Homo sapiens: one gene and its partners. The protein of the gene in region 4 interacts with the protein of the main gene of each other region in a pairwise test. Each region holds a gene or a part of one and is shown on either strand. Other genes may lie near its edges.

Region 1 (7,812 bases), on a different chromosome or scaffold from region 4:
ATCTCAGCTCACTGCAAGCTCTGCCTCCCAGGTTCACGCCATTCTCCTACCTCAGCCTCCCCAGGGGAGCTGGGACCACAGGCGCCCACCACCACGCCTGGCTAATTTTTTGTGGTTTTTTTAGTAGAGACGGGGTTTCACCGTGTTAGCCAGGATGGTCTTGATCTCCTGACCTCGTGATCCACCTGCCTCGGCCTCCCAAAGTGTTGGGATTACAGGCATGAGCCACCACACCTGGCCTGGATGTAAATTTCTTAGCATGGTTTGTTGGGTGGTTTTATTGCCACCATGTCATCGTCATCATCATCATCATCATCATCATCATTATTTAAAGCCCGAAATTCTCTTCTGAACATCCTTTTGGCCCCAACCCAGGAATTGTGAAATACAATATTCTAAATGTTATTTTAGGAATGGTCTGTAATTGCAGTTTTGATTCCCAATTTAAACTCAGTTCTTCAGGAGATTTTTGGTGTTATTGTTAATTTCATGTAGTTAAATTTCCCAGATTTAGTGTTGCTGTTCTTACAATTTTTTATTAGAAAATTCCAGTTTAATTGCATCGTGCCACAGGATGTGTCTTATTTTTATTTGTTGGAATTCATTGAGGTTTACTCTGTTAGCCAGTATGTGATGTGACTAAGTGTTTTATGTGTTCTGTGCACATTTGAAAAGAATGATTATTCTGTGTTTTGGGTTTCAAATATGTATATATTCAAATGTGATATTAAAATGCAGTCATTATGGTCAACAAAGAACTGCTTATATGATAGTGGTCCCATAAGATTAAAATACCATATTTTTACTGTACCTTTTGTTACAAATGTTCAGATACACAAATACTTACCACTGTGTTACAAATGCCTACAATAACATGCTGTACAGGCTTGTAGACTAGAAGCAGTAGGCAATACCATATAGCCTTGGGGTGTAGTAGGCTATACCATCCAGGTCTGTTTAAGTACCCTATGTAACGTTTGTACGACGATGAAATTTCTCAGAACTTATCTTCATTGCCATGCAACACATGACTGCATATATATGTAAGCACATATTCAATTTTGTAAGTCATAGAATTCAAGCTCTTTATGTACATTTTGTCTAATTAATCTGAAAAAATCTTAACAGTGGTGTACATTGAAATCTAACACCATATTTGGAGTATATCTCTAATTTTTTTGTTTTACATATTTCGACGCTTTATGTTTACCCAAAGTTTTCTGATTTTCATGCCTTCATTGAGTGCTCTTTTTATCATTTTGTAAAAAAGTAATTCTTGATCTATTTAATAGTTGCCTCAATTTTTATTTTGTCTGACAAAATTAACACTGACACCTCACTTTCTTTTAATTTGCATTTGCACAGTATTTTCCTATCCCTTTATTTGTAACTTTATGTGATTAAGTTTTAAATGTGTCTCTTGAAAGTGGGATATAATTGGACTGGGGAGAGAGAGTTTGTTTCTTTAGGCTTTTTTTGTTTCCCTTTTTTAAACTGAATCTGAGAGTCTCTTTTATTTTAATGTGTAATCTTACTACAGAGCTTAATTGATTCATCTTTCTTCTCACATGTTTTGTTTTTCTTATTATGGCTCCTTAATTATTCCTTTTCTTGTTTTCCAGTCAACTTATTCACACTTTCTTTTCCTTCTTAATGAATCATAGGTTTCATTCATTTTATTTGATATTACTGGTGGCTATGTAAAGAATTTTTCAAAGCAATATTTGAGCCTGTATTTTTCCTCTTCATTGATTGCAAGAATGGCACTATCTGATGCCTCTTCCCTATGCAAGAGGTGAGGTGCTAGGTGCTCTCAGAGTGATTGACTATTTAGGGGACATCATAGATCATTATATATCATCTCTCAAGATTTTTTTTTTTTTTTTGAGATGGAGTCTTGCTCTGTCATCTAGGCTGGAGTGCAATGGTGTGATCTCGGCTCACTGCAACCTCCGCCTCCCAGATTCAAGCCATTCTCCTGCCTTAGCCTCCCGAGTAGCTGGGATGACAGGCACGTGCCACTATGCCCGGCTAATTTTTGTATTTTTAGTACAGATGGGATTTCACCAGGTTGGCCAACTGGTCTTGAACTCCTGGCCTCAAATGATCCACCCACCTTGGCCCCCCAAGGTGCTGGGGTTACAAGTGTGAGCCACTGCGCCCGGTCTAAGATTTATCATTTGCTTTATTTCAAAATCGTATTAACAACCGTCACTGAGACTTAAAATTTGTCTTGTTTTGTGGCCTGTCAATTTTTTTATCATCATGGTCTGCTCCCCCAACCCCTCCAGGCTCTTGCTCTGCCCTATCTTGAACTCCATTCTATTACAGCACTAAACCTTTTCAGTCCCCTGAATGTCCCATGCGCTCTCTAGCTTCCAGGACTTGGTGCAGGCTGCTTCCAATGCCTTCCAAATTTTCTTTTTTTTCTTTTTTTTTTTTAATTTTGTTATTATTATACTTTAAGTTTTAGGGTACATGTGCACAACGTGCAGGTTTGTTACATACGTATACATGTGCCATGTTGATGTGCTGCACCCATTAACTCGTCATTTAGCATTCAATAAACGTAATCCAGCATATAAACAGAACCAAAGACAAAAACCACATGATTATCTCAATAGATGCAGAAAAGGCCTTTGAGAAAATTCAACAACCCATCATGCTAAAAACTCTCAATAAATTAGGTATTGATGGGACGTATTTCAAAATAATAAGAGCTATCTATGACAAACCCACAGCCAATATCATACTGAATGGGCAAAAACTGGAAGCATTCCCTTTGAAAACGGGCACAAGACAGGGAAGCCCTCTCTCACCACTCCTATTCAACATAGTGTTGGAAGTTCTGGCCAGGGCAATTAGGCAGGAGAAGGAAATAAAGGGTATTCAATTAGGAAAAGAGGAAGTCAAATTGTCCCTGTTTGCAGATGACATGATTGTATATCTAGAAAACCCCATCGTCTCAGCCCAAAATCTCCTTAAGCTGATAGGCAACTTCAGCAAAGTCTCAGGATACAAAATCAATGTATAAAAATCACAAGCTTTCTTATACACCAATAACAGACAAACAGAGAGCCAAATCATGAGTGAACTCCCATTCACAATTGCTTCAAAGAGAATAAAATACCTAGGAATCCAACTTACAAGGGATGTGAAGGACCTCTTCAAGGAGAACTACAAACCACTGCTCAAGGAAATAAAAGAGGATACAAACAAATGGAAGAACATTCCACGCTCATGGGTAGGAAGAATCAATATCGTGAAAATGGCCATACTGCCCAAGGTAATTTATAGATTCAATGTCATCCCCATCAAGCCACCAATGACTTTCTTCACAGAATTGGAAAAAACTACTTTAAAGTTCATATGGAACCAAAAAAGAGCCCGCATTGCCAAGTCAATCCTAAGCCAAAAGAACAAAGTTGGAGGCATCACGCTACCTGACTTCAAACTATACTACAAGGCTGCAGTAACCAAAACAGCATGGTACTGGTACCAAAACAGAGATATAGACCAATGGAATAGAACAGAGCCCTCAGAAATAATGCCGCATATCTACAACTATCTGATCTTTGACAAACCTGACAAAAACAAGCAATGGGGAAAGGATTCCCTATTTAATAAATGGTGCTGGGAAAACTGGCTAGCCATATGTAGAAAGCTGAAACTGGATCCCTTCCTTACACCTTATACAAAAATTAATTCAAGATGGATTAAAGACTTAAATGTTAGACCTAAAACCATAAAAACCCTGGAAGAAAACCTAGGCAATACCATTCAGGACATAGGCATGGGCAAGGACTTCATGTCTAAAACACCAAAAGCAATGGCAACAAAAGACAAAATTGACCAATGGGATCTAATTAAACTAAAGAGCTTCTGCACAGCAAAAGAAACTACCATCAGAGTGAACAGGCAACTGACAGAATGGGAGAAAATTTTTGCAACCTACTCATCTGACAAAGGGCTAATATCCAGAATCTACAATGAACTCAAACAAATTTACAAGAAAAAAACAACCCCATCAAAAAGTGGGTGAAGGATATGAACAGACACTTCTCAAAAGAAGACATTTACGCAGCCAACAGACACATGAAAAAGTGCTCATCATCACTGGCCATCAGAGAAATGCAAATCAAAACCACAATGAGATATCATCTCACACCAGTTAGAATGGTGATCATTAAAAAGTCAGGAAACAACAGGTGCTGGAGAGGATGTGGAGAAATAGGAACACTTTTACACTGTTGGTGGGACTGTAAACTAGTTCAACCATTGTGGAAGTCAGTGTGGCGATTCCTCAGGGATCTAGAACTAGGAATACCATTTGACCCAGCCATCCCATTACTGGGTATATACCCAAAAGATTATAAATCATGCTGCTATAAAGACACATGCACACGTATGTTTATTGGGGCACTATTCACAATAGCAAAGACTTGGAACCAACCTAAATGTCCAACAATGATAGACTGGATTAAGAAAATGTGGCACATATACACCATGGAATACTATGCAGCCATAAAAAATGATGAGTTCATGTCCTTTGTAGGGACATGGATGAAACTGGAAACCATCATTCTCAGCAAACTATTGCAAGGACAAAAAACCAAACACTGCATGTTCTCACTCATAGGTGGAATTGAACAATGAGAACACATGGACACAGGAAGGGGAACATCACACACTGGGGACTGTTGTGGGTGTAGGGAGGGGGGAGGGATAGCATTAGGAGATATGCCTTCCAAATTTTCTATAGTCCTTGATGATGCTAAATTTTCATCACTCTTCAAACCCTATTTTTGGATAACACTTCTTTAAAATGAAACCACAAACCAATACAGACCCCCAAAGCTGTCTGTGCTCTGAGAACAGGTTCTTCCACTACCAAAGCACTCATCTGATGCTACTCCAGTGGCTTGTGTCACCACTGGTCATGTCTACTGAACTCTAAGCTCCCTGAGGGCAGAGTCTGTCTGTCATATTTCGAGTTGATCCATGAGGCCTAGCTTGGCGAATGGCCTCTATCAATTGCTCAGTAAATATTTGTTGAATGACTAAGGATGATTGCATTTAATGTTTAAAGGTGTTCTCTGGCCAGATAAAATGTATAAAGTAGGAAAAGACATTTTACATACTGTACAACACCTTTGCTTGGGCTAATTCTTCTGGGGAACTAATAGTTCACTTAGTAACCCCATCTCTGGTTCAAATCTGATGAATTGCCTATGCTTACTTGCCTTATATTGTAAGTGATCATCAAGATACATGGAATACTGTTGAGATATGGAGAAGAATGAGGTTAAGTCTTTTTGTGCTACATAGAATTGGAAAACAAAACATGCTGCAGCACAGTGTGTGCGCGTGTGTGTGTCTGATGCTAGAATAAATCAGAGAGAATACTCAACAAGCTGTTATTGAAGAGCAGAGAATGGGTAAAAACTGATTACTCTACATTTTACTAATTACAGCATTTTTACCAAACACAAAATTTAATATTAAAGATTAAAATACAAAGTGGCAATATAATAAATTGCTAATAAATTTGTATACACCACTTAACTACAACCTAAAAAGAAAAAGAGGGAAAAACAAAAACCACAAACTTAAAACAAAGAAACCCAAAATATGATCTGCCTACTGGAAGAAATAGAAGTAGGAAAGTGGCTCAAAAAGTTGTTCGTGGATGAACAACTAAGATCTCCTTCCTGGAGAACTAAGGGCAGGGCCATTAAATTAGACATTTCGTGATCTCTAAATAGAACTGAGAGGAGATTCAAAGAAATGCAAAATAACAGCTATAGAGCATTATGGAGTCTTTGGCCTGAAAGAATTTTTCAGATTTTGATGGTCCAACTGCTGTCATTTACTTCTGTGTGTGTGTGTGTGGATGGGGGTGTGTGCGTGCATGTGTGTGGGTGTATGTGTGATTGCTTTGGCTTGAGTTTTGGTAAGAAATTACATATCATGTCTTTTAAGATTATTTTTAGATATATTTCTCTTTTTCACCACACATACACACACACACACACAGAGACACACACACACTTTTTATTTTCTGCTTCTGACAACTAGCTCAATGCAGGGGATGCATTGTCCTGCCACTGCTTCAGTAAATGTGACAGGTATCCTGTGTTCTCAGCAACTGCTGCAGGATTCTCTGGCATCTGCACTTTGGCTGGAGTTGGCTACAACCATCCTTGGAGGATGAGGAGAAGGAAGGAAGAGAGGGAAAGCGCATAAGACTGGGCCACCTGTCCACCTTCTCCAACCCTCACCATTGCTCGAGGCTCTCTTAATCCATTTATGAGGAGGTAAGTACAGAAAAAAAGACAGATGAGCTTATGGCTGACTCAGGCCTGAAATCCTTGCCTTGGATAATGGGAAGAAGGCCATCTTTTTGAAAGAGAAGATCAGGAATATTTCAGTTACAATACTCTCCTGACACATTTTCACCATTCCAAACTCCACCCAGTGTTCTACAGGACTATTTATGAAACTTTTAAAATCTTGACCTAGGCTAGGCATGGTGGCTCACGACTTTAATTCCAGCACTTTGGGAGGTTGAGGCGAGCAGATCACTCGAGCTCAAGAGTTTGAGACCAGCCTGGCCAACATGGCAAAACCCCATCTCTAATAAAAATACAAAAAATTATCCAGGTGTGGTGGCGTGTGCCTGTAGTCCCAGCTACTCGGGAGGCTGAAGGGGGAGAATCACCTGAGCTCACGGAGTCAAGGCTGCAGTGAGCCGGGATTGCACTGCTGAACTCCAGCCTGGGCAACAGAGTGAGACCCTGTTTCAAAAAATAAATAGATAAATAAATAAAAATAATTTTTAAAGAATTTTAAAAATTAAAAAAATCTTGACTTACCATAATAATTTACATTTTACATCATAGTACATGGATCACATACACATAAGATTTATATGTATACATAAATAAATAAATATATATAACTAAAAACTTTCATGAAACAATACCTTTACTACGGTATAATAAAAATAATATAAAATATCTTTGGTATGAAAAAGATAATATAAAATATGATTTTGCTAAGAACCTGATGCAATCTGATGTATGCTATTCTTTTTTTGTTTTAGAAAAAGGAAGTTGGTTCCAACCCGCTAAGTTGATTTTCAATCCACTAGTGGGTCATGCTTGAAAACCACTACTTTCAGGTTTTCTCTGATTTTTTACAGCAATTCCATATGGGGTATTTGCTTTGATTCCTCATTTAGCTCCCTTCTTTGGGCCACTGAATCTTGTCATATGTGCATTGATTTTGCCGCATTTGCTCAGCCCTACTCAAGAGGTCTGTGCTTACTCAGATTCGGGAGCTGGGATGAGTTCTGAAATTCCTCGTTGGAATCTTTCATATGCCGATGCCAGACTGCAGAAAGGGCTTAGATTTCCTGTGGCTTTTCTTTGCCAGGTGAGAGGTGCAGTGAGCAGCAGGGAAGGTGCACCATTCCCCAGCATCCAAGTTCTCAGGGGAGCCTTGAACCTTTGGAAGGGATGTTTGTAGGTGACCGCCTCCTATTGGCTGAGCAAGGTAGCCATGTCTTAGCTGCTGTAACTGTCCACTGGAGGAGCATTTCCATCCCAGCTGCACATGCCAAGACTCAGCCAGGGGCAAGACCGATGGAGATCTCCACGCGGGATCCCAGCATCGGGTCACTGTCCAGCATTACCAGTTGCTCCCACTCAAAGCAAACCTCTCCTCCAGCATCTCCAGATGTGGCAAGAACAGCGCCTCCCTCCTGATGGGCTCCGCCCTTCCACCCAACGTCCTTCACATCCACCTGAG
Region 2 (7,812 bases), on a different chromosome or scaffold from region 4:
CCTGAACCTTGCTCTGCAGACGCCTGTGCAGGGAATTGCGTGTTGATTCTGAGCCTGCGGCTGCGTCCTGCCAGAGCTGGCAGCATCTGCCCTCAGGGGACTGGGACCTGTGCCCCACATCCTCCCAAAGCTTCATGTTGTGTTTTTAGAAACTTACACAGTGCCAAGGCCGGTGGAGGCACCCACTGATCCTCAGAGCAAGGGAGGACAGACAACCGCTGTCCCCTGGTCCTCTGTGAACCCCGGCCACTGCCTCCCCAGCGTCCCGGCAGCTAGAGCACCATGCTGGCTGACCCCTGGGCTCTGGCCCGCAAGCCATGGACCCCATGCCCCTCTGGCCCGCAAGCCGCGCACCCCATGCCCCTCTGGCCCGCAAGCCGCGGACCCCATGCCCCTCTGGCCCGCAAGCCGCGGACCCCACGCCCCTCCTGCTTCAGCTGGTCCCGAGCTCTCCCCTCCTCTCGCTTCCACATGCCTGCTGGGTCTCTGGCCCCTGCCCTTTCTCTAGGGACACTGTTGGTGACTGTCCCCAGCAGCGCCCCCGAAATGTCTTAAAAACAAAGTGGATGCCCCGCCCCGTGCTGTCCTGGGTCTCTGCTCCCTTAGAACAAAGCCCTTTGGGGCAGGTGACCCGTCCCACTCTGCTGCCCTCTCTGGAAGCTTCTCCGTGGCCTTTATCCTCACCATGGGAGCCGCCCTTGTCCCAGTGGAGCTGTGAGCTGTGCCCCTTCAGCCTCAGCGGCTGCCGGATATGGGCAAGTGCCCACCCCCGCCCAGCCTTGGCCCCACTCGGCCCTGCCCCCGGCCTTTCTTCTCTACCCTGGGCCCTCGTGGCACCTGAGTGGGTGCTGAGCTGAGCCTGGCTGTCCTGGCCCTAGCTCTGCCCCTCGCTCAGGCCCCGACGGGGCTTCTTCTGCCTCCTCACCCAGCACTGCTGTGCTCAGCCCCTCAGGGCCTGCACCCCCGACTCAGGGCCCGGGGTCCCATGGCTGCAGGAGCAAGGCCCTGCACGGCAAGGGCCACAGGCCTGGGCTGGCCCGACTCCATCCACCTCCCTGTCCCTGACGTCCCAACCTCCCTCCCTGGCCCTGGACTCCTAGCCTTGGTGTGGCCCTGTGGGGACAAGAAGGCTGAGGACAAGAAGGCTGTGGGACTCCTTTCTGCCTCCCTCACATGCAGAGTCTTGCTACTTCCTTTGCTCCTTCCTTCCTCTTTCTTTCTTTCTTTTTTTCTTTCTTTCTTTCTTTGACGGAGTCTTGCTCTGTCACACAGGCTGGAGTGCAATGGCGCCGTCTCTGCTCACTGCAACCTCCACCTCCTGGGTTCAAGCAATTCTCCTGCCTCAGCCTCCTGAGTAGCTGGGACTACAGGCACCCGCCACCACGCCCAGCTAATTTTTTTTGTATTTTTAGTAGAGATGGGGTTTCACTATGTTGGCCAGGCTGGTCTCAAACTCCTGACTCTGATCCACCCGCCTCAGCCTCCCAAAGTACTGGGATTACAGGTGTGAGCCACTGCACCAGACCTCCTCTTTCTTTCTTTCTTTCTTTCTTTCTTTCTTTCTTTCTTTCTTTCTTTTTTTGAGACAAGGTCTCACTCTATCACCGAGTATTCACAGCTCACTGCAGCCTCGAACTCCTGGGCTCAAGAGATCCTCCCAGCTCAGCCTCCGGAGTAGTTGGGACTAGAGGTGTGAGCCACTGCACCCGGCTGATACTTTTTCCTTTTTTGGGTAATTTTCAGCAAAGACCAGGTCTTGTGCCTGCGTGAGTTACATTCTAGGCTTCAAAGCTTATCCAGCTAGAAGAGCCTTCATTAACAAATATCTTTTTAGCACATCAGAAAAATAAAAACTTCTTTCAGAATAAATTATTTTGAAGTACCTGGGGGTTGGGCGCAGCGGCTCATGCCTGTAATCGCAGGGCTTTGGGAAGCTGAGGTGAACAGATCATTTGAGCCCAAAGTTAAGATCAGCTTGGGCAACAGAGTGAGACCCCATCTCAAGAAAAAATTAAAACTGAGAAGTACCTGGGGGCCTTCTAGTCAAGCCAACCCACTGTGTTGCATGGACTGGCAACACTGTTTTGTGAATATGATTCAGATCCTTCTGGAAGCGCAAATGTTAGAGTATTTCAGAGTCTCAGTTGCTCAGGTGAGCGGCAGGCTCATGGGATTCCGGTTTCATTCCAGTGCATCCCCTCGGCAATTGTGAGCTTCACCGTCTCCAGGAGGAACGCCAATGTGGTGAGTCTAGCTTGCAGGCAGCCTCTGCCAGGGAGAAAGCCGGAGGGGCTGACAGACAGTGTGCCCATGTGTGCTTGTGTGTGTGCCCACGCACAGACGTTGTGGCACCGAGAGGGGCCCCCGAGGTTGCCCCCCAGACAGTAAAGCTCCTGCCCAGCCCAGCCTTTGCCGCACAGAGGGGAGAGCGGGCTGAGCACGCAGGACTCCCCACCATTATGTCCTAATCAGGATAATTTTTAGTGAATGGCCTGAAGTGTGGTTTATCTGTTACCTTTTTTCTTTTATTATTCAAAGAAGGAAAACCCCTCCTGCCTTGTTTTTCAGATTCCCAACTTTCAGATATTGTTTGTTTCCACGTTTGCTGTGACCACTACGTGTTTAATTTGGTTTGGATGCAAACTAGTCCTGAACCCATCAGCAATAAACGTGAGTTCACACGAGCTTCGCGCAGACGCCTGACACCCACAGCCCCACTCCCACGAATGGTGTCAGCAAATGTTTGTTGAGCTGGAAATAGGTGGTAAATGTTATTCACAGCTCGTGAGTTTGACTAAAGTTGAGAGATTTATGCATCCAAAGAAAATAATTGTCTTTATTGAAGTCTCGTGATTCTGCGGGACAGATTTATTGGTAAACAATGTCTTTTCCAACAGTCCTTAAAAATTAACAGTGACATAATACTATGTTTCATCCAATCTGTGTAAGACAGTTGTTCAATGCACCTCTAAACAAAAATGTGAAATTGTAGGGGGCAGAGGTTGTGGGAGCCGAGATGGCGCCACTGCACTCCAGCCTGGAAGACAGAGCAAGACTCCGTCTCAAAAAAAAAAAAAAAAAAAAAAAGACAAAAATCCCAAAGGAAACCAGGACCTCATCCGAGATACTGCAAGGAGGGCCTCCTGCTTTGTGTGACATGTGGAATGCACTTGATGATTGGGGAAAGCTGGAGGAGGCTTGAGTATGTCCTGGCCACTCTCGTTGGGCAGGAAAAATGAGCAGACACAGGAGGACCCAGTGGGAACACCCACACTGCCTTTTTGTTTTGTTTTGTTTTGTTTTTGAGAAGGAATCTCGCTCTGTCGCCCAGGCTGGAGTGTAGTGGCGCCATCTCGGCTCACTGCAACCTCTACCTCCCGGGTTCAAGCAATTCTCCTGCCTCAGCCTCTGGAGTAGCTGGGATTACAGGCGTGTGCCACCACACTCGGCTAATTTTTGTATTTTTAGTACAGACAAGGTTTCACCATGTTGGCCAGGCTGGCCTTGTACTCCTGACCTCAGGTGATCCATCCACCTCGGCCTCCCATAGTGCTGGGATTACAGGTATGAGCCACCGCGCCCGGCCTGTGACGCTTCTTTATTAAGACGGAGAGCAGATGGGGTGTGGTCCCTGGGTCAGTGGCTTGTATCTGAACTGCTCAGAGGCAAGTTACTCACTGTAGCTGTCGGCTGGCCCTGGGAGGAGCTGTCTCTTCAGGATCAGGAAGGAGCCAGAGGTCAAAGCACCAGAAATACAGAAAATAAAAGACAAGGTTAATGTCACACTTTTCTGAATTTTAGAGTTCTCCTTATGCTTTTGTCTTTTTGATCTGTCATTTTTTTTTTTTTTTGAGACAGTCTCGCTCTGTCGCCCAGACTGGAGTGCAGTGGCTCCATCTCGGCTCACGGCAACCTCCGCCTCTCGGGTTCAAGCAATTCTCCTGTCTCAGCCTCCCGAGTAGCTGGGATTACAGGCGTGCGCCACCGTACCCAGCTGATTTTTGTATTTTTAGTAGACAAGGGGTTTCACCATGTTGGTCAGGCTGGTCTGGAACTCCTGACCTCAGGTGATCCAACCGCCTCGGTCCCCCAAAGTGCTGGGATCACAGGCGTGAGCCGCCTCCCTCTGCCTGATCTGTCAGTTTCTAAGAAAAGTGTTTCAAGTCCTTCCCCACCTCTACTGATATATCTACATCTTCCTGTGGCTCTGTTATGACATCATATATTTCGAGGCTCTGTTTTTAGTTGAATGTGGTTCTGCACTCTTTCTTTTTTAAATGTATTTTAAAAATTGTCAGGCCGGGCGCGGTGGCTCACGCCTGTAATCTCAGCACTTTGGGAGGCCGAGGTGGGCGGAACACCTGAGGTCAGGAGTTCGAGACCAGCCTGACCAACATGGAGAAACCCCTCTCTACTAAAAATACAAAATTAGCCGGGCGTGCTGGTAGGTGCCTGTAACCCCAGCTTACTCGGGAGGCTGAGGCAGGACAATCATTTGAACCCAGGAGGCAGAGGTTGCGGTGAGCCGAGATTGCGCCATTTGCTCTCCAGCCTGGGCAACAAGAGCGAACCTCCGTCTCAAAAAAAAAAAAAAAATTGTCAGACAGCTACACTGACTTTTTAAAATGTATGCTTCTATGAATATTAACACACATATAAATTCATGTCACTGCCAATACGGTCAGGGCCTGCAGTCGTTTCATTACCCTCCAAAAAACCTTATGTTCTCAGTGCTTGACAATCATGCATGAAGCTACTCTAAACATTCCGTGAAGGCTTTTGTGGGAACAAGGAGCGTTCAGAATGGGGTCGGTAGACCAGAGCCCAAGGCCAAATCCAGCCCTGGCCTGTGTTTGTACAGCCTTTGCACTAAGAATGGTTTTAAAAACTAAAAGACCCCAAAGGCCCATGTGAGGCAGGAGAGTGTGCAGCCCACAGTGCCTCACAGCTGGCCCTGGATGGGAAAAGTGGGGACCGTGGCTGAGAGTCCTGCGCAGCCTGCCCGTGAGGTGGTCCGGTGGACGCTGAAGCGCGGTGGCGTGAGAAAGGCGGGCCCGGTGCTGAAGCGTGTGTGCCCCTTGGCAGATCAACTTCAACCTCATCCTGCTGCTCCTGCTGGAGCTGCTCATGGCGGCCACGGTGATCATCGCTGCACGGTCCAGCGAGGAGGACTGCAAGAAAAAGAAGGTGGGTGCAGCTTCTGACCCCGCAGGGCAGGGGGTGCAGAGGCATCACCCCAGGGTGAGCGAGGTGGGTCTCAGCGTCACCCTCGGAGGGCCGATCTGGGCTGCTCCAGGGCATTCCCATGAGACCCCTCTCTCCTGGGTCTCAGAAACCCCGGCCAGGAGGGGCTCTGGAGCTGGGTGAGGGGTTGGCGGCCGCTGGCTACAGGGAGGTGAAGACAGATGCTGTACCCTCCCCTCCCCCTAAGCCTGACTCAGTCCAGTGCTCGTCCCCAGGGGATCACCAGGAGACACCACATCTGCTAATTTTCATATGCAAGGACAATGTGTGTGAACATTTCCTCAAGCCCAAAGATCCACGGGCGCCTCCAAGGCGGTCTCGCATCTACACGGCAGGCTGACCTGACCCACTGCCCACGGCGGCCGGATGCCAGCGGCAGTGCTGAGTCCCTGTGCCCGTGCACCCGGGGTGACAGTTCTGTTTCTTCGTAGGGCTCCATGTCTGACAGCGCCAACATTCTGGACGAAGTGCCATTTCCTGCTCGGGTCCTGAAATCTTACTCAGTAAGAAAACTTCCCTTCTTTCTCTTTTCTCTCATACTCTGTCGGGGGTGACTGAGGCTGGATTAAACGTCACGTTTCGATTCCGAGTTGGCGAAGAGTTGGCTGTCTACACCGCATGGCGGCGTGCGCCTCATCTGTGGAGACTCTAGTCTGTTATTGGTATCATTGGTAATAACCTTCCTTATCGCGAAAGGTGCTGCTGGTGTCCTGTAATTTTTAGGGGGAGTTTGTTACTGCCGTAGGTGAGTTGACACTGTTGTCCCCGAGGAATTTTTTTTTTTTTTTTGAGACGGAGTCTCACTCCATCAGCCAGGCTGGGGTGCAGTGGTGCTATCTCAGCTCACCGCCACCTCTGCCTCCCAGGTTCAAGTAATTCTCCTGCCTCAGCCTCCTGAGGAGCTGGGACTACAGGCACATGCCACCACGCCCGGCTAATTATTTTATTTTTAGTAGAGGCAGGGTTTCGGCATGTTGGCCAGGCTGGTCTCGAACTCCTGACCTCAAGTGATCCACCCACCCAGGCCTTCCAAAGTGCTGGGATTACAGGTGTGAGCCACCGCACCTGGCCTCTTTCTCCTTCTTACTTTCAACTTTTCTTGCCTTGTACTTTGGTATAATTGTTATAAGCAGCACGTAACTGTATTTTGTTCTTTATCTTGTCATTCTCTCTCCCTAGCTTTTTGAATGTAGCCCATTTCCTCTGAGAGTTATTACTGATAAATTTCTACTTATTTTTACCATCTTTTGAGTTTTCCATTTTCCCTGATTTTGCCTTTTTCCCTCCTTCCCTGCCTTCTTTTGAATTGGCAGAGGCTCCGTCCTTCCTTTTCCCTCTAATTTTGGATGGGAAATTTTTCAGTATTCTTTTGGGGGTTGCCCTTCATATTCTAATACGCTCCTTGATAAACAGACCATGCGGGGTCTGTCCCCCTTCCCTCCGCCTTGGCCTTGTTGTCTAGCTTGTGACATTTAGTGACATTTTGCCTTTTTACTCCAACAATGGGACAGCCTCCTGTGTGCTTGACTGTGTCTGTGTGTGTTTCCCAGTGCCTTCACTTCCCCTTATTTAGCATTTCAGTCCTCTCTTAGGTTCCATTTCCGTTCTGCTTCTTTTTTTTTTTTCCTTTTTTTTTGAGATGGAGTCCTGCTGTTGCCCAGGCTAGAGTGCAGTGGTGTGATCTTGGTTCACTGCAACCTCTGCCTCCTGAGTTGAAGCGATTCTCCCGCCTCAGCCTCCCGAGTAGCTGGGATTACAGGTGCCCGCCACCACGCCCAGCTAATTTTTGTTATTTTTAGTAGAGACGGGGTTTACCATGTTGGCCAGGCTGTACTCAAACTCCTGACCTCACGATCCGTCTGCCTCGGCCTCCCAAAGTGCTAGGATTACAGGCATGAGCCGCCGTGCCTGGCTGGGAATTCAGCTTTATTTGTGCATCTGGAGTTTTGTGCCTTCTGGACGCAAGGCCTGGCTGCCCAGGTCCCTTCCGGCCCCCAAGCCCTTGCTGGCCCACTCCTTATGCCTGGCTTTCCTGCTGGCCACAGCTCTGTGTTTGCGACTCACAGAGATCCTTCACGGGAGCAGGTTTTCGGGCGTGTGTTTCTTCCCCAGCCCTCCCTGAGTCTGGCGGTGCTGGTTGCGGCCCCTCCCTGAGTCTGGCGGTGCTGGTTGCGGCCCCTCCCTGAGTCTGGCGGTGCTGGTTGCGGCCCCTCCCTGAGTCTGGCGGTGCTGGTTGCGGCCCTGATGGTGCCGGGCAGATGAGTCCACAACCAGGGCTTAGGCCAGCAGGGTTCTTGGCTTTGTCCAGGAAAGAATTCAAGGGCGAGCTGGAGGTGACAGACAGCAGCTTTGTTTGCAGTGGCAGTATAGCAGGGCTCTCCAACCGGCAGGTGCCTCGAGCAGCAGCTCAGAGACAGCTCTGCCTCCTATTTATACCCACTTTTAAGTATATGCTAATTAAGGGGCAGATTATGCAGAAATTTCTAGAAAAGGGGTGCTAACGTCCAGGTGGTTGGATCATTGCCACGGAAAGGGGTGGTGACGTCCAGTGTTGCCGTGGCAATGGCA
Region 3 (7,812 bases), on a different chromosome or scaffold from region 4:
AGTGACTTAGGAAAGAACCAATGATATCAAGATCAAAAACTTTAAATATAAGCAAAGACAATGGGTCACAACAATAAAAAGAAAAGTCCTGGCAAAAGCATTAACATGTATGCCCAGAACCCTGTAATCCTGGGTACCCCCAAAGATATTAGAGAATAATGGAGAATATTCAATATAGGATGCAGAGTCATTTGAATGATGCAACAGCTTACTGTGGTATAAAGGTTATAATGAAAAGAAGAAGGCTGGGTGCAGTGGCTCACGCCTGTAATTCCAGCACTTTGGGAGGCTGAGGTGGGCAGATCACGAGGTCAAGAGATCGAGACCATCCTGGCCAACATGGTGAAACCCTGTCTCTACTAAAAATACAAAAAAATTAGCTGGGCGTGGTGGCACGCACCTGTAGTAGCAGCTACTCAGGAGGCTGAGGCAGGAGAATCGCTTGAACCTGGGAGGCAGAGGTTGCAGTGAGCCGAGAACGCACCACTGCACTCCAGCCTGGGCAACGGAGCGAGACTCTGTCTCAAAAAAAAAAAGAAAAGAAAAGAGGAGAAAAGACGGAAGAGCACCATAAAAACTAATGTAATACTGAAAGGATCCAAGCTACAGAGGTTTTGACAAAAGTTTATGCATATGAAATGTGCTCGTGATGAAGTCATCCACTCCCATGACACAAGACCAGTGAAATATCCCAAGATTTTAAAACACTGACCACTTTGCATTCTGTTTCCTGAGTCAAAGCCAAACTACAGAGTTGAAAGTGCTTTAGCTCAACCTCAAACCCTTTTTGTTTAGATCAGAAGTCACCAACCCCCAGGCCATGGACCAGCACTGGTCCGTGCCCTGTTAGGAACCAGGCCACACAGCAGGAGGTGAGCAGCAGGTGAGCAAGCATTACCACCTGAGCTCCACCTCTCCTGTCAGATCAGCAGCAGCAACAGATTCTCATAGGAGCGCAAACCCTATTGTGAACTGTGTATTTGAGGGATCTAGGTTGCGCACTCCTTATCAGAATCTAATGCCTGATGACCTGAGGTGAAACGAAACCGGTCCCTGGTGCCAAAAAGGCTGGAGACCATTGATTTAGGTAATGGTTCTCACTTAGCAAGCAAGTGAACAAATCTGTATATGCCCATTTGGTTAAGCCTGGTATCTCCCAGACATATGACCATAGCAGAATGAACAATAATTATGTTTAATGATTTTGTTACTACCTTTTTTGCTGAGGGACTTTTTCCAGGATGTTATTTCTGGAGAAAAGAAAGGGATCTCTAGGAAATACTTGCTCCTGTCTGGTACAGAAATTTCACCCAATTTACACAGGCCAGGCCCTCTTCTCTGAATAACTTAACAGGTGAGGTCAACATGCATTTATTCAGTGCCTGCTGTGTGCTTTTATAAAATAAAAGCTGTATCATGTTATAGTGTGGCAGAGAATAGTGGGAACAGACATCAACAAGGAATGTATATAAAAGAACTTTAAAGCCGGGAGTCCCAGCTGTGACAGACCAATCTCCAATTCATTAAGACCCTAACCCTCAGGCTCCTTTCAAGCTGAACTCATGCTTAATTTAAAGGAAAATATTCGTGCCAAAGTTTCCAGGAAATGGAAACTGGAGACTTTTTCAGGTCCTCTAAATTCTCAATCATTCCCCACATGAATTGTCACAGAAACAAAGGGCAAGAGACCACTTTACCTCTTGTGGATTTACTGCAGTTAAGACAGAAACTTCATATGATTGCCTCCCTGACTGCATGGTCACCAGGTGATGTGTCACATCAGGCACTGAAGACAGGGAACGTGGGGATCCTTCAGCAAGCACCTCTGTGAAGCAACAGAAAAATGTTTCAATGAAAAGTGAATCCAGAGATACACCTATCTGGATCATTAAGCCTCTCATTAACAACTCTAAAACTCTATTCCTCTATTTCCCACATTCCTCTATTTCTTCCAAGTTAATCCTGTCTGATAAGCATTATCAGTGAATTTGGAAAGTAATATAAAAAGAGAATAGAAAGGCAAGAAATCTTAATACAGGATTTAGAATAATATGGTGTTAGCACTTTTAACTGAATTAAAACTATGTATGAAACAGGCAAAAGTCTTAGGCAAGCAGGTAAGGGAACCAAAGCCACCCTTAAAAGCAGTCGCCAATGATACTAATAGCACTTACTAACTGAATATGATATGAGTAACAAAAACATAGGGTCTCACAGTTACTAAATGTTCATCAGTGGGATCACCATGAAAATCTTCTGGAAATAGTTTATGGATATACCACTTAGCCCTCAAAAAACTAGAAGTTTCTTCTAGGGGTTTTCTAGATTATACAACTATTTTATGCTGTACCATATAATTTAATGTTGGCTTATATACTATCTTTTATGTACTCAATGTTCTTTCCCATATATATGTAAGCTTTCACTTCTCAACTGGATTTTAAGGTCCCTATCTTCTACTTTTGTCTTTCCCATGGTGCCAGGCACACAGTAGGCACTGAATAAATGCATGCTGACCTCACCTGTTAAGTTTTTCAGAGAAGAGGGCCTGGCCTGTGTAACTTGGGTGAAATTTCTATACCAGAGAGGAGCAAGTGTTTCCTAGAGAGCCCTTTCTTTTCTCCAGAAGATATGGCTTTTGAAGGTATGGAGAAATTGCTTTATATCTCCTCTGTAAAACCTGGTTATGTTCTGTTTAAATGTTCTAAAAGTTAAGTTCTTCCATAACTGCAATAGGAAAGATAGAAATAGTTGGGCTAGGATGCTAGGATTAGGAATAATTTTTTCTTAAGAATTTTTTCTTTTTATTCTTTTATTATATTATCTTCAATGAAAAAAAATTTTTTTTTAAACAGATTGACTAATCCACCCCAGAGAATAAGAACACAAATGCTACTCATACCACAGCTACTCATAAGAAATGAGATTTAAACATACATTGTGGAGACACCCCATTCCTTAGCCCCTAGTTGCAGCCCATTTTTCCCAAATAAAGGAGAGTTGGAAGTCTTACCATCATCAACTCCCAGGATAGAATTGGTATTTGGTAGGTTCAAGGACTCTCCACCAAGGCTGGGCTGGGAATTCATAGACACCAGGTTTTTACTGGGTACTGAAGCCTCTTCAAGCAAACTACTGCCCATTAGTGGCTCAGCTGCACAGAGAATAGGTTGTGAGAGACATACAGCAATCAAGGCTGTGCCTGGTCCTCATTTTCTTTCAACAGAAGCTGGCCTTCTCTTTCATTACTAGAAGTTAACCTATAGATGGGATGCCACCCCCTATTTCACCTACTTTCGAGAAACAAGAATAAACCTAGAAGGGAAAGAGTAAGCCTTAGAAGATAATGATCCTTGCTTGTGTTCAGCGTCTGAAGAATTAGCATATGAAACAGGATAGGTGGATCTTTAGAAAGGAATATTTGGAATAATTAAGGAAAGATATGGCGAAGGAATAAGAATTAAAAAGAGTTATCAAATTTCAGGCAGGGCAAAAAGGTAGTCATGACTGGTAAATAAAATATGCTTCCAGCCTGGCCAACATGGTGAAACCCCGTCTCTACAAAAATATAAAAATCAGCCAGGTGTGGTGGCACCTGCCTATAATCCCAGCTACTCAAGAGGCTGAGGCAGGAAAACTGCTTGAACCCAGGAGGCAGAGGTTGCAGTGAGTCGAGATGGCGCCACTGCACTCCAGCCTGGGTGACAAAGCAAGACTCCATCTAAAAAAATTAAAAAGCTTAAACTCTTCCCATGTGGAAATCTTTTATCACTGTGTTACTCAAATGCTTGTTCATGGATCAGCACTAGTTACCATCAAACTCACTAGGGAAACTTTTAAAACTACAGATTCTAGGATCTTGCAAATTATCTCATTTATCAGATTGCTTTGTTTTATTGGTGGGCGGACAAGCAACAAAAAGTATATAAATTTTAAAAGGTTGCAGATGATTCTACTGTATAGCTATGTTTGGAAACCATCAGCCCATCAAATGAGACCAGGTCTATCTACCCAAAACAGAATCAGAAAATTTCCAGATAAGCAGGCAGGACAGTGATTTGGCTCTTGGAACCCTAGAAGTAGTACAGCGTTCCACTATGCCCACCCTCCTCACCAGTTTGCTCCTGCTCTTGACTCCCAGCTGCTCCCAGCTGCAGGTGATGCTTTCTCATATGCACATTCCTGCTTCCACTCTGAGAGAAGGTCTTCCCACAGACTTGGCACTGATGAGGCTTCTCTCCTGAAACAGGGACCAGGTTAAACAAGGAAGCCAAAAGGACAGGAAGAGAATGAACTCAAGACCTAGATGGAGAAACCCAGAGAATGTTAAACTGAACATAAGCAGCTGCTCCTTTTCCCATTCCGCACCTTCCCAGCCTCTCAAACTTCAGTATATGGGGGAAGGCAGGAAGAGTACACCAGGAGGGCTTTAGCACACTCCCTGCTCCCAGCTGCTGGTCCTTTCCAGACCTTCTGTAATGCTGCCTTCACAAAACCTCTTTGGTATAGGACCATGGCAACCACAAAAAATATGCCTTCTTTTTCAGTTAGTCTTCCATGGACCTCTAGGACATGTGCTTTCCTCAAGGATTTCAATCCTGTGTTCCTAATATCCCCTTGTCATATTCCCTGCCACCCTCTTTAGGGTCATCAACATTCACACTGGTGGCTCTTACAACATAATAATCTAAATTGTCCTCTATGTCTTCAAGTCCCAAACTCTCCGTCTCCATTCTACCTACCCAGAAAACCATACTTAGAGCAGGGGTCAAAAACTCATGTCTATAGGAGACTGATAGGTAGCAAAAGTAAGTAAAATGGCCAAGTGGGGGCTGCAGTAACCTAGAGAGTACCTAGAAAAGGGGCAGCTGTTATTCAGCTCTAGCCAACTGTTGCCATGGGTAGATTAAGGCAGATTCTCTGATTTTTTTTTAAGACACTGGAAATAAGGATTTTTAAGTAGAATCTCCCAATTTCTAAATGCTAGGAACAAATTCACAATTGACAAACACATGGTACAGCAATCATCATTGCTGATTGTATTTTGCTGGGAATGCAAAATACAAAAACCTCTTTGGGGGAATCTGACCAGATCTAGAAAAATTGTAGATGCACTTGCCCTTTGACCTAGGAATCCCACTTCTAGGAATATGTCCCAAAATTACAGCAGCAAAATGTGAAATACTCTGTGCACAAGGTTATTCATCACGGCAACATTATTTTAAATGGCTAAATACTGGAAACAACGTAAATATTCATCACAGAGACTGACTAAAAAGCTATAGATACTGCAGTAGTCCTGCATAGCAAAAAAAAAAAAAAAAAAAAAAAAACCTATACAATAGAAACAGGGTGGAATATTACAAAGCTTAGAACTAAAAACTGAATCACCATTTGAACCAGCAATCCCATTACTGGCTATCTACCCAAAGGAAAATAAACTGCTCTACCAAAAAGACACTTGCCCTCACATGTTCAATGCAGCACTATTCACAACAGCAAAGACATGGAATCAACCCAGGTGCCCATCAATGGTAAATACGATACAGAAAATGTGGCACATACACACCATGAAATACTATGCAGCCATAAAAAAGAACAAAATCATGTCCTCTGCAGCAACATGGATGCAGCTGGAGGCCATTATCTTAAGCAAATTAACACAGAAACAGAAAATCAAACACCATGTTCTCACTTATAAGCGGGAGCTAAACACTGGGTACTTATGGACACAAAGATGGGAACAATAAACACTGGGGATTCCAAAAGCGGCTACGGGGCAAGGGCTGAAAAACTACCTATCAGGTACTATGTTCACTGCTTGGTCAACAGGGTCATTAGTAGCCCAAACTTCAGCATCTTGGAATATACCCTTGTAACAAACCTGCACATGTACCCCCTGAATCTAAAATAAATTTATTTTAGCCAGGTGCAGTGGTTCACACATGTAATCCCAGCACTTTGGGAGGCCGAGGCGGGCAGATTACTTGAGGTCAGGAGATCAAGACCAGCCCGGCCAACATAGTGAAACCGCATCTCTACAAAAATTAGCTAGGCGTGGTGGCGGGCGCATATAATCCCAGCTGCTTGGGAGGTTGAGGCAGGAGAATTGCTTGAACCCAGGAGGTGGAAGTTGCAGTGAGCCAAGATCATGCCACTGCACTCTAGCCTGAGCCAGAGTGAGACTCTGTCAAAAAAAAAAAAAAAAAAAAAAAAAAAAAAGGCCGGGCACGGTGGCTTACTCCTGTAATCCAGGCACTTTGGGAGGCTGAGGCGGGAGGATCACGAGGTCAGGAGATCAAGACCATCCTGGCTAACACGGTGAAACCCCATCTCTACTAAAAATACAAAAAGGTAGCCGGGCGTGGTGGCGGGCGCCTGTAGTCCCAGCTACTCGGTACGCTGAGGCAGAAGAATGGCGTGAACCGAGGAGGCAGAGCTTGCAGTGAGCCGACATCACGCCACTGCACTCCAGCCTGGGAGACAGCAAGACTCCGTTTAGGGGAAAAAAAAAAAAAAAAAAAAAAAAAAAAGGCCATATGAAATGTCCAGAACAGGCAAATCCAGACACAGAAAGCAGATTAATGGTTGCCAGGGGCTGGAGAAAGAGAGACATGGTCAATGATACTAATAATGGGACTTCTTTTTCTTTTTTTAATCATCTCCTGGATATGGGGATCCTTTTTGGGATGATGAAATGTTGTGGAGTCGGACAGTAGAGAAAACTGTAAAACTATGAATATATAGTTGGCCATCCACATCCATTGATTCAACCAAGCAGATAAAAAATATTCAGAAAAAATAAAAATAAAAAATAACAGGCCAGGCGCAGTGGCTCATGCCTGTAATCCTAGTACTTTGGGAGGCCAAGGCAGGTAGATCACTTGAGGTCAGGAGTTCCAAGACCTGGCCAACATGGTGAAACCCTGTCTCTACTAAAAATATAAAAATTAGCCAGGCACATGCCTGTAATCTCAGCTACTTGGGAGGCTGAGGCAGGAGCATCACTTGAACCCAGGAGGTGGAAGTTTCATTGAGCCAAGATCGTGGACCACTGCACTCCAGCCTGGGCAACAGAGCGAGACTCCATCTAAAAAAATAAATAAATAAAAAATAACAATATAGCAATAAAAAATACAAATAACCAATATAGCATAACTATTCACATAGCATTTACGTTGTATTAGGTACTATCAGTAATCTAGAGATGATTTAAAGCATATGGGAGGATATGTGTAGGTTATATGCAAATACCATGCCATTTTATGTAAGAGACTTGAGTATTTGTGGATTTTGGTATCTGTGGGGTCCTGGAACCTATACACCACAGATAACAAGGGATAATTATATTACTACTAAAAATCACTTAGTTGCACCCTTTTCTTCTTTTTATATTTTAGATGGAGTCTCACTCTGTCACCCAGGCTGGAGTGCAGTGGCATGATCTCGGTTCACTGCAACCTCCCCCTCCCAGGTTCAAGTGATTCTTGCACCTCAGCCTCCTGAGTAGTTGGGATTACAGGCACATGCCACCACACCCAGCTAATTTTTGTATTTTTAGTAGAGATGGGGTTTCACCATGTTGGCCAGGCTGGTTTTGAACTCCTGACCTCAGGTGATCCACCCACCTCGGCCTCCCAAAATGCTGGGATTACAGGCATGAGTCACCATGCCCGGCCGGACTGCACACTTTTTTGAGATGAATCTTATGGTATGTGAACTATATCTCAACTTAAATAACCTGCATTTGCTTGTATATGCAAAAAGAACCACTGGAAAAGTAAACCAAATAGGAAATAAAAAGTGTTTATA
Region 4 (8,262 bases):
TGAAATGGAAGCTCTAATTTGTCAAGCACCTGCTGTGTTCAGCTTTCACTGATTTTATTCTTACAACTACCTGGGGAGCAGGCATGGTTGAATCCCCATTTTACAGACGTGGAAATGAAGACTCAGGCAAGGTTCTTAAAGTCATCAAAGACTGCACAGCTACTGAGTGGCCAAGGCTTTGCTCCCTCTCCTTGAGGACAGTGCTATAGCAGTCAGAGTCAAGTCTAGAGAACAAAGCGGGTGATGCCCCTGGGTGAAACAAATTTGGGTTTTAGAAAACTCCGCCTACAGCTTTCTCCCTGCCTCTAAACTGCGGTGGCTGTGGCGGCTCACACCTGACCAGCTGAGCACCACCATCTAGTGGCCACCAGGCTCAGTTCCCTTCCTCGGGACAGGCCATGGATGAACAGACTTGCTGGTCACCAAGGCTCAGCCAGAGAGACTGTGTTCTCTTCACCCAGCTTGCTGACCACCACGCTGTGCCAGGCACTGGGCCAGGGCCAAGGGCCCAAGCAGAACCAGCGGGCAGCAGTCATGTGGCAAAACTGCCGTTTGAATTAGAGGCTGGCCTATTTGGCAAACACCAGGCACCCTGTGTGTGGGTTGATGCCACATGTGGGGCTGGTCTGTCCCAGGAGGCATCTGGGCTTTACCCTGTAAGCAGAAGGTCATCTAGCAGATTCTGATGTGAGGGAGGGGCTCAGGAAGGTCATCTTGTCCTCACCTCAGCTTGAAGCAGGCACAGCTTGGCTGTAGGCTCCTTGAAAGGGCATCCAGACTTCTCTCTCCATGGCTGGTATTATCCTGCTGTGCAGTCTAGAAGGCAGTCTAGGGTTTGGCCAGAGGCTTTAGAAGTTGGGGCCTTCCATTTGGGGAAGCAGGAGAGGAGGCACCCCAGAGAATGGGGCCTGAGCCAGGCTAGGAGGATGGGGGGTTTGGGTGGAGGCTGGACGGGCTGAGGGCCTACCCTTCTCTGTTTGCTGTGTCTGCCTGCAGCAGATGCAAATCAGAGTGTGGTTTAGAACAGAGAGAGGACAGTCACAGCGGCTCACATCTGTAATCCTAGCACTTTGGGAGGCTGAGGCCAGAGGATCACTTGAGGCCAGGAGTTCAAGACCAGCCTGGGCAACATAACAAGACTTGGTCTCTGAAAAAAAAAATTATCTGGGCACACTGTCATGTGCCTGTAGTCCCAGCTCCTTGGCAGGCTGTGGCAGGAGGATTGCTTGAGCTCAGAAGTCTGAGGCTGCAGTGGGCTATGATGGTGCCACTGCACTCTGGCCCTGGGTGGCAAAGTGAGACTTTGTCTCTAAAAAAAAAAAAAGAGAGAGAGAGAACATACTGTCATACTGTCCACCACTAGGGCTTGGTACATGAATGCATATAGTGGAAAATCATGCAGCTGTTAAATGATGATGCAGACAAATATTTATTGATGTGGAAAGATGTTCACAACATATTGTTGAGTGAGAAAAGCAAATTACAAAATAATTTGTACGGCATGAGCCCATTTTGAAAAAAATGATTATATATGTGTGGAAAAAATCTGGTAGTGTTTATCTCCAGGTGGCAAAATGATGGCTAATTACATTTTTTTGTATTGCTTATCTATAGTTTCTGACCTTTCTACAATGAATATTTAATTAAAAAGATAATGAAAGTTTGGAACACAACCACGACCAAATCTGTCTGTATCTTTGGTTCTCTGTGCAGACACCTTTAGATAGTTAAGGGTTGGCCAGGCGTGATCTATATGTACCGGTTGTATAGGTCATGCCTGTAATCCCAGCACTTTGGGAGGAAGAGGTGGGAGGGTCACTTGAGCCCAACAGTTCGAGACCAGCCTGGGCAACATGGCGAAACCTTGTCTCTAGTAAAATACAAAAATGAGCTGGGCATGGTGGTGTATCTCTGTGGTCCCAGCTACTAGAGAGGCTGAGGTGGGTGGATCGCTTGAGCCAGGGAGATTGAGGCTGTAGTGAGCTGTGATAGCACCACTTCACTCTAGCCTGGGCAACAGAGCAAGACCCTGTCTCAAAAAACAAAAACAAGATAGTTAAGGGTTGAGTGTGAGGAAAGGTCTGAGGGTTGAGAAGGGGTGGAGGATGCACCTGGGCCTATGACAGGGGTCCACGGAGGTGGCTGATGGCAAAAGCTGGGGGACTCCAACTGCTGATGCTGAAACAAGCTTGTGTCTCACATACACAGGGACAGTTCACTGAGCTTCAATGACAGGCACCTCCTGCTCATCACATCTTTTCTCTCTAGGACAGCTTTGCCCTTATTTTAACTAGACTTCCCTTGAACCAAAAGGGAAGGCTACATGCTGTGACTTGCTGGGCAGCCTGGAAAGGCGGGCCACTCCTAGCCACAGAGATGAGACAGAGTTCAGACAAGAGCTTATCCCCAGTCTTCCTTTTCTATTTTGTTTATTTTATTTTATTTTTTTATTTATTGAGACAGAGTCTCTGTCACCCAGGCTGGGGTGCAGTGATGCGACATTGGCTTACTGCAGTCTCCACCTCCTGGGCTCAGGTGATCCTCCCACCTCAGCCTCCCGAATAGCTGGGATCACAGTAGTGCACCACCATACCTGGCTAATTTTTTTGTATTTTTTGTACAGACAAAATTTCACCACATTGCCCAGGCTGGTCTCGAACTCCTGGACTCAAGCGATCCGCCCACCTCAGCCTCCCAAAGTGCTCGGATTACAGGCATGAGCCACTATGCCCAGCCTTGCTCTTCCTTTAAAGCCTCCTGTCCTTCCCCAGGTCCCCAGTTCATAGCAGGATCAAAGGTCACTGGGCGCTCACCCCGTCTTCAAGATGCTCTTTCCTATGTCACTGCTTACGCCCAGGTCAGATGTGACTAGAGCCTAAGGAGCTCCCACCTCCCTCTCTGTGCTGGGACTCACAGAGGGAGACCTCAGGAGGCAGTCTGTCCATCACATGTCCAAATGCAGAGCATACCCTGGGCTGGGCGCAGTGGCGCACAACTGTAATTCCAGCACTTTGGGAGGCTGATGTGGAAGGATCACTTGAGCCCAGAAGTTCTAGACCAGCCTGGGCAACATGGCAAGACCCTATCTCTACAAAAAAAGTTAAAAAATCAGCCACGTGTGGTGACACACACCTGTAGTCCCAGCTATTCAGGAGGCTGAGGTGAGGGGATCACTTAAGGCTGGGAGGTTGAGGCTGCAGTGAGTCGTGGTTGCGCCACTGCACTCCAGCCTGGGCAACAGTGAGACCCTGTCTCAAAAGACAAAAAAAAAAAAAAAAAAAAAAAGAACATATCCTGGTGTGGAGTAGGGGACGCTGCTCTGACAGAGGCTCGGGGGCCTGAGCTGGCTCTGTGAGCTGGGGAGGAGGCAGACAGCCAGGCCTTGTCTGCAAGCAGACCTGGCAGCATTGGGCTGGCCGCCCCCCAGGGCCTCCTCTTCATGCCCAGTGAATGACTCACCTTGGCACAGACACAATGTTCGGGGTGGGCACAGTGCCTGCTTCCCGCCGCACCCCAGCCCCCCTCAAATGCCTTCCGAGAAGCCCATTGAGCAGGGGGCTTGCATTGCACCCCAGCCTGACAGCCTGGCATCTTGGGATAAAAGCAGCACAGCCCCCTAGGGGCTGCCCTTGCTGTGTGGCGCCACCGGCGGTGGAGAACAAGGCTCTATTCAGCCTGTGCCCAGGAAAGGGGATCAGGGGATGCCCAGGCATGGACAGTGGGTGGCAGGGGGGGAGAGGAGGGCTGTCTGCTTCCCAGAAGTCCAAGGACACAAATGGGTGAGGGGACTGGGCAGGGTTCTGACCCTGTGGGACCAGAGTGGAGGGCGTAGATGGACCTGAAGTCTCCAGGGACAACAGGGCCCAGGTCTCAGGCTCCTAGTTGGGCCCAGTGGCTCCAGCGTTTCCAAACCCATCCATCCCCAGAGGTTCTTCCCATCTCTCCAGGCTGATGTGTGGGAACTCGAGGAAATAAATCTCCAGTGGGAGACGGAGGGGTGGCCAGGGAAACGGGGCGCTGCAGGAATAAAGACGAGCCAGCACAGCCAGCTCATGTGTAACGGCTTTGTGGAGCTGTCAAGGCCTGGTCTCTGGGAGAGAGGCACAGGGAGGCCAGACAAGGAAGGGGTGACCTGGAGGGACAGATCCAGGGGCTAAAGTCCTGATAAGGCAAGAGAGTGCCGGCCCCCTCTTGCCCTATCAGGACCTCCACTGCCACATAGAGGCCATGATTGACCCTTAGACAAAGGGCTGGTGTCCAATCCCAGCCCCCAGCCCCAGAACTCCAGGGAATGAATGGGCAGAGAGCAGGAATGTGGGACATCTGTGTTCAAGGGAAGGACTCCAGGAGTCTGCTGGGAATGAGGCCTAGTAGGAAATGAGGTGGCCCTTGAGGGTACAGAACAGGTTCATTCTTCGCCAAATTCCCAGCACCTTGCAGGCACTTACAGCTGAGTGAGATAATGCCTGGGTTATGAAATCAAAAAGTTGGAAAGCAGGTCAGAGGTCATCTGGTACAGCCCTTCCTTCCCTTTTTTTTTTTTTTTTTTGTGAGACAAGGTCTCTCTCTGTTGCCCAGGCTGGAGTGGCGCAAACACAGCTCACTGCAGCCTCAACCTACTGGGCTCAAGCAATCCTCCAGCCTCAGCCTCCCAAAGTGCTGGGATTACAAGCATGAGCCACCCCACTCAGCCCTTTCCTTCCTTTTTAATTGATGCATAATAATTGTAAGTATTCATCATGGTCCAACCAACCCTTTCTTGACCCACCTTCCTAGAGAGAGGGTCCTCTTGCTTCAGCGGTCAGGGCCCCAGACCCATGGTCTGGCTCCAGGTACCACCTGCCTCATGCAGGAGTTGGCGTGCCCAGGAAGCTCTGCCTCTGGGCACAGTGACCTCAGTGGGGTGAGGGGAGCTCTCCCCATAGCTGGGCTGCGGCCCAACCCCACCCCCTCAGGCTATGCCAGGGGGTGTTGCCAGGGGCACCCGGGCATCGCCAGTCTAGCCCACTCCTTCATAAAGCCCTCGCATCCCAGGAGCGAGCAGAGCCAGAGCAGGATGGAGAGGAGACGCATCACCTCCGCTGCTCGCCGCTCCTACGTCTCCTCAGGGGAGATGATGGTGGGGGGCCTGGCTCCTGGCCGCCGTCTGGGTCCTGGCACCCGCCTCTCCCTGGCTCGAATGCCCCCTCCACTCCCGACCCGGGTGGATTTCTCCCTGGCTGGGGCACTCAATGCTGGCTTCAAGGAGACCCGGGCCAGTGAGCGGGCAGAGATGATGGAGCTCAATGACCGCTTTGCCAGCTACATCGAGAAGGTTCGCTTCCTGGAACAGCAAAACAAGGCGCTGGCTGCTGAGCTGAACCAGCTGCGGGCCAAGGAGCCCACCAAGCTGGCAGACGTCTACCAGGCTGAGCTGCGAGAGCTGCGGCTGCGGCTCGATCAACTCACCGCCAACAGCGCCCGGCTGGAGGTTGAGAGGGACAATCTGGCACAGGACCTGGCCACTGTGAGGCAGAAGTGAGGAGGGGATGGGGAAGGGGGGCCTTGTGAGCAGAAGGGGCTGAATCCCCAAGAAGGAGTGCCCGAGAAGTCTCAGGGAGGGGCCGAACCTCCCTGCTCCCTGGGCCTCCCTACCTCTTGATGGGGCACTATCCTTGCCCCCCAACATGATGGGAGGGACCAGAAACAGGCCCAGGGCCCCGGGGATCTGATGCCCGCATGCCTTCTGCCAGGAGTCCAGGGTCCCCTCAGCACCTCCCTACTGGGGAAAGCAGTGCAGGAGCAGCGGGGCCCCTGTGTTTCATTCATGGCTGGGCTTTGTGACTGTGGGCAGCGAGCTCACCTATTCTGAGCCTGTGTCCATATAAAGGAGGAGTTGGAAGCGGAGAAGGTTGATGTCCATGAGGGAGATTGGATTCTGGGGTGAAGAAAGTGAGGGAAAGAGCAGGCAGGTCTGGGCGCAAAGCACAGGTGACTGCCTGCCACCAGCTTGTGACCCCCATCAAGTTACTTTGACTTGCACAGCTGTGAAGCGGTGGTCATAATAAAATTCATTTCAAAAGGTGGTTACCTGGGATCAGAGGAATCCCCAGGGGCATGGCGCTTCACTGAGCTGACAGGACATGCATGTGTGCCTTCAAGTGCAGGAGGACATGTGCGTGTGTGTGTGTGTGTGTGCAACAGTGAGTGTATGCTTGTGGATGCGCCTGTGTGAGCAGAAGCAGGTGCACCAACCCTGATAAGGCACCTTAGTAATGAGTTAAGGCAAAAGCCCACATCTGCTCATCCTCCAGACAAGTCCTCTGTCTAAGGCCCCCCAACCCTTAATCCTCCTGCTGCTCTACTGGTCCTGGGTGGGGGTGGTCTCTGTGACAGCTGCCTCAAGGGAGACTGAGGCAGGTATTCAAGTGTCCTCAGAAGAGCCTGGACCCAGGAATGTGTCCCCCCACTCCAGGCTCCAGGATGAAACCAACCTGAGGCTGGAAGCCGAGAACAACCTGGCTGCCTATAGACAGGTCAGGGAGGTGGAGGGGAGGGGCAGGGGAGGGAGGAAAGGATTGATGGCCACCCACCCAAACACAGCCCCCAAGCTCAGCCCGCCAGAGCAATGTGCTGCTCCCCACTGCCCCAGAAGGAGGGGTAAGGCAAGGCTGAGGAATGGGGAGAAGGAGCCTGGGGCCCCAGTGGCCCTCTACTCCTCACCCCTCCTGCCACTCCAGGAAGCAGATGAAGCCACCCTGGCCCGTCTGGATCTGGAGAGGAAGATTGAGTCGCTGGAGGAGGAGATCCGGTTCTTGAGGAAGATCCACGAGGAGGTGAGGCCAGGGCAGAGGGAGGAAAGCTCAACACAGAGATTGCAACTGAGAGAGGGAGAGACAGAGACAGAGAAGCTGAGACTGAGAGAGACACTCAGAGAGAGGAGAGAAACAGAGATTGGCAGGTAGAGACAGGAAATGAAAGACAAACAGAAAGACACTAAGGGAGACGGAAAGAGACAAGAGAGCATTCGAACTCCTGGCCGAGGGGCAGGCAGAAGAGGACACAATGGCGTGGGGAACCCCAGCTGTGGCCTGTACCCTGAGCCCTGGTACCGCTTCTCTCACCCTGGTCAGGAGGTTCGGGAACTCCAGGAGCAGCTGGCCCGACAGCAGGTCCATGTGGAGCTTGACGTGGCCAAGCCAGACCTCACCGCAGCCCTGAAAGAGATCCGCACGCAGTATGAGGCAATGGCGTCCAGCAACATGCATGAAGCCGAAGAGTGGTACCGCTCCAAGGTAGCCCTGCCTGTGGGCCAGCCTGCCTCCTCCAGGCAGCCCTTCTTGCTCTGTACAAGAGAATGGGGGAAGGAGGGTGGAGGAAGCTGGGAGAATATCCTCTCCAGGTGACTGACTTTCACCAGAGAAGTGAGATGGCTTGCCCAGGGTCACACAGGCACTATTGCTTTCAAAAGTACCCATTATTATTACTGCTACTATTGCTATTATTAGTAGTAGCTGATACTGTTCTGTTCTAAGCCCTGTGCTTTTCATGGATTACCTTACTATGAAGTAGGTGCTGTTCTTTGACAGATGAGAGAGCCGAAGTCCAGAGAGGTTAACTAATTTGCTCAAAGTCACACAGCTCCTAAGTGGTAGAGTTGGATTTCCAACTCTAGCACATCTCACTTGGGAGCCTGCATTCCATGCCTCTGCCAGTCTGTTTTGGGTTACTGAGCCTCTACCATATGCCAGGCACCCCCCAGGACACAGAGAGGTGTCTGACCTGGAAGGTGTGATATTGACGTGCACCCAAACATAGTGCCCGTAGAGAACACCACAGCTCAGAGCTTATATGTAGTGTGGGAGCCAGGAAAGACACTGTAGAGGGGGCATTTGGGCTAGGCAGGACAGGCACGCTGTGGACAGGAAGAGAAGAAGGGAGGGCCATTCCTAGTGGAGGACAGAGCCTGGAGGCAGAAAAGCACAGAGAGGCAGGGCCCCAAGATGCTAGCCTAGCCAGGGCACCTAGCTGAGGAGTGTGAGTGGCAGAAGCCACTGGTGTCTGAGCAGGGTGAGGGCCCGATGGGGCTGGGAGGACCTCCCTGCAGGCAGGGGAGAAAGGGCTATTAGAACCCAGGGTGAGGCCAGGCGAGGTGGCTCACACCTGTAATCCCAGCACTTTGGGAGGCCGAGGCATGCGGATCACCTGAGGTCAGCAGTTCAAGACTAGCCTGGTCAACATGGTGAAACCCCGTCTCTACTAAAAATACAAAATCAGCCGGGT

What was found.
Region 1: the proteins of GFAP (region 4) and IL16 interact in binary tests that used the Homo sapiens proteins (3 or more experiments, as listed by UniProt).
Region 2: the proteins of GFAP (region 4) and MLC1 interact in binary tests that used the Homo sapiens proteins (3 or more experiments, as listed by UniProt).
Region 3: the proteins of GFAP (region 4) and ZNF410 interact in binary tests that used the Homo sapiens proteins (3 or more experiments, as listed by UniProt).

The regions. Positions count from the first base shown.
Region 1 is NC_000015.10:81,199,380-81,207,191, reverse strand, and holds part of IL16 (pro-interleukin-16), read right to left. Parts: intron 7,717-7,812; exon of another isoform or gene 7,382-7,716; coding exon of another isoform or gene 7,330-7,381; intron 6,792-7,329; exon of another isoform or gene 6,722-6,791; intron 1-6,721. UniProt on the Homo sapiens protein: Interleukin-16 stimulates a migratory response in CD4+ lymphocytes, monocytes, and eosinophils. Primes CD4+ T-cells for IL-2 and IL-15 responsiveness. Also induces T-lymphocyte expression of interleukin 2 receptor. Ligand for CD4.
Region 2 is NC_000022.11:50,074,776-50,082,587, reverse strand, and holds part of MLC1 (membrane protein MLC1), read left to right. Parts: intron 1-2,190; coding exon 2,191-2,244; intron 2,245-2,568; coding exon 2,569-2,670; intron 2,671-5,085; coding exon 5,086-5,187; intron 5,188-5,675; coding exon 5,676-5,747; intron 5,748-7,812. UniProt on the Homo sapiens protein: Transmembrane protein mainly expressed in brain astrocytes that may play a role in transport across the blood-brain and brain-cerebrospinal fluid barriers. Regulates the response of astrocytes to hypo-osmosis by promoting calcium influx.
Region 3 is NC_000014.9:73,917,408-73,925,219, reverse strand, and holds part of ZNF410 (zinc finger protein 410), read right to left. Parts: intron 4,241-7,812; coding exon 4,115-4,240; intron 3,155-4,114; coding exon 3,014-3,154; intron 2,522-3,013; exon of another isoform or gene 2,484-2,521; intron 1,826-2,483; coding exon 1,698-1,825; intron 519-1,697; coding exon of another isoform or gene 417-518; exon of another isoform or gene 401-416; intron 1-400. UniProt on the Homo sapiens protein: Transcription factor that binds to the sequence motif 5'-CATCCCATAATA-3', and is specifically required to silence expression of fetal hemoglobin in adult erythroid cells.
Region 4 is NC_000017.11:44,912,281-44,920,542, reverse strand, and holds the start of GFAP (glial fibrillary acidic protein), read left to right. Parts: upstream 1-5,042; 5' UTR 5,043-5,056; coding exon 5,057-5,517; intron 5,518-6,454; coding exon 6,455-6,515; intron 6,516-6,719; coding exon 6,720-6,815; intron 6,816-7,112; coding exon 7,113-7,274; intron 7,275-8,262.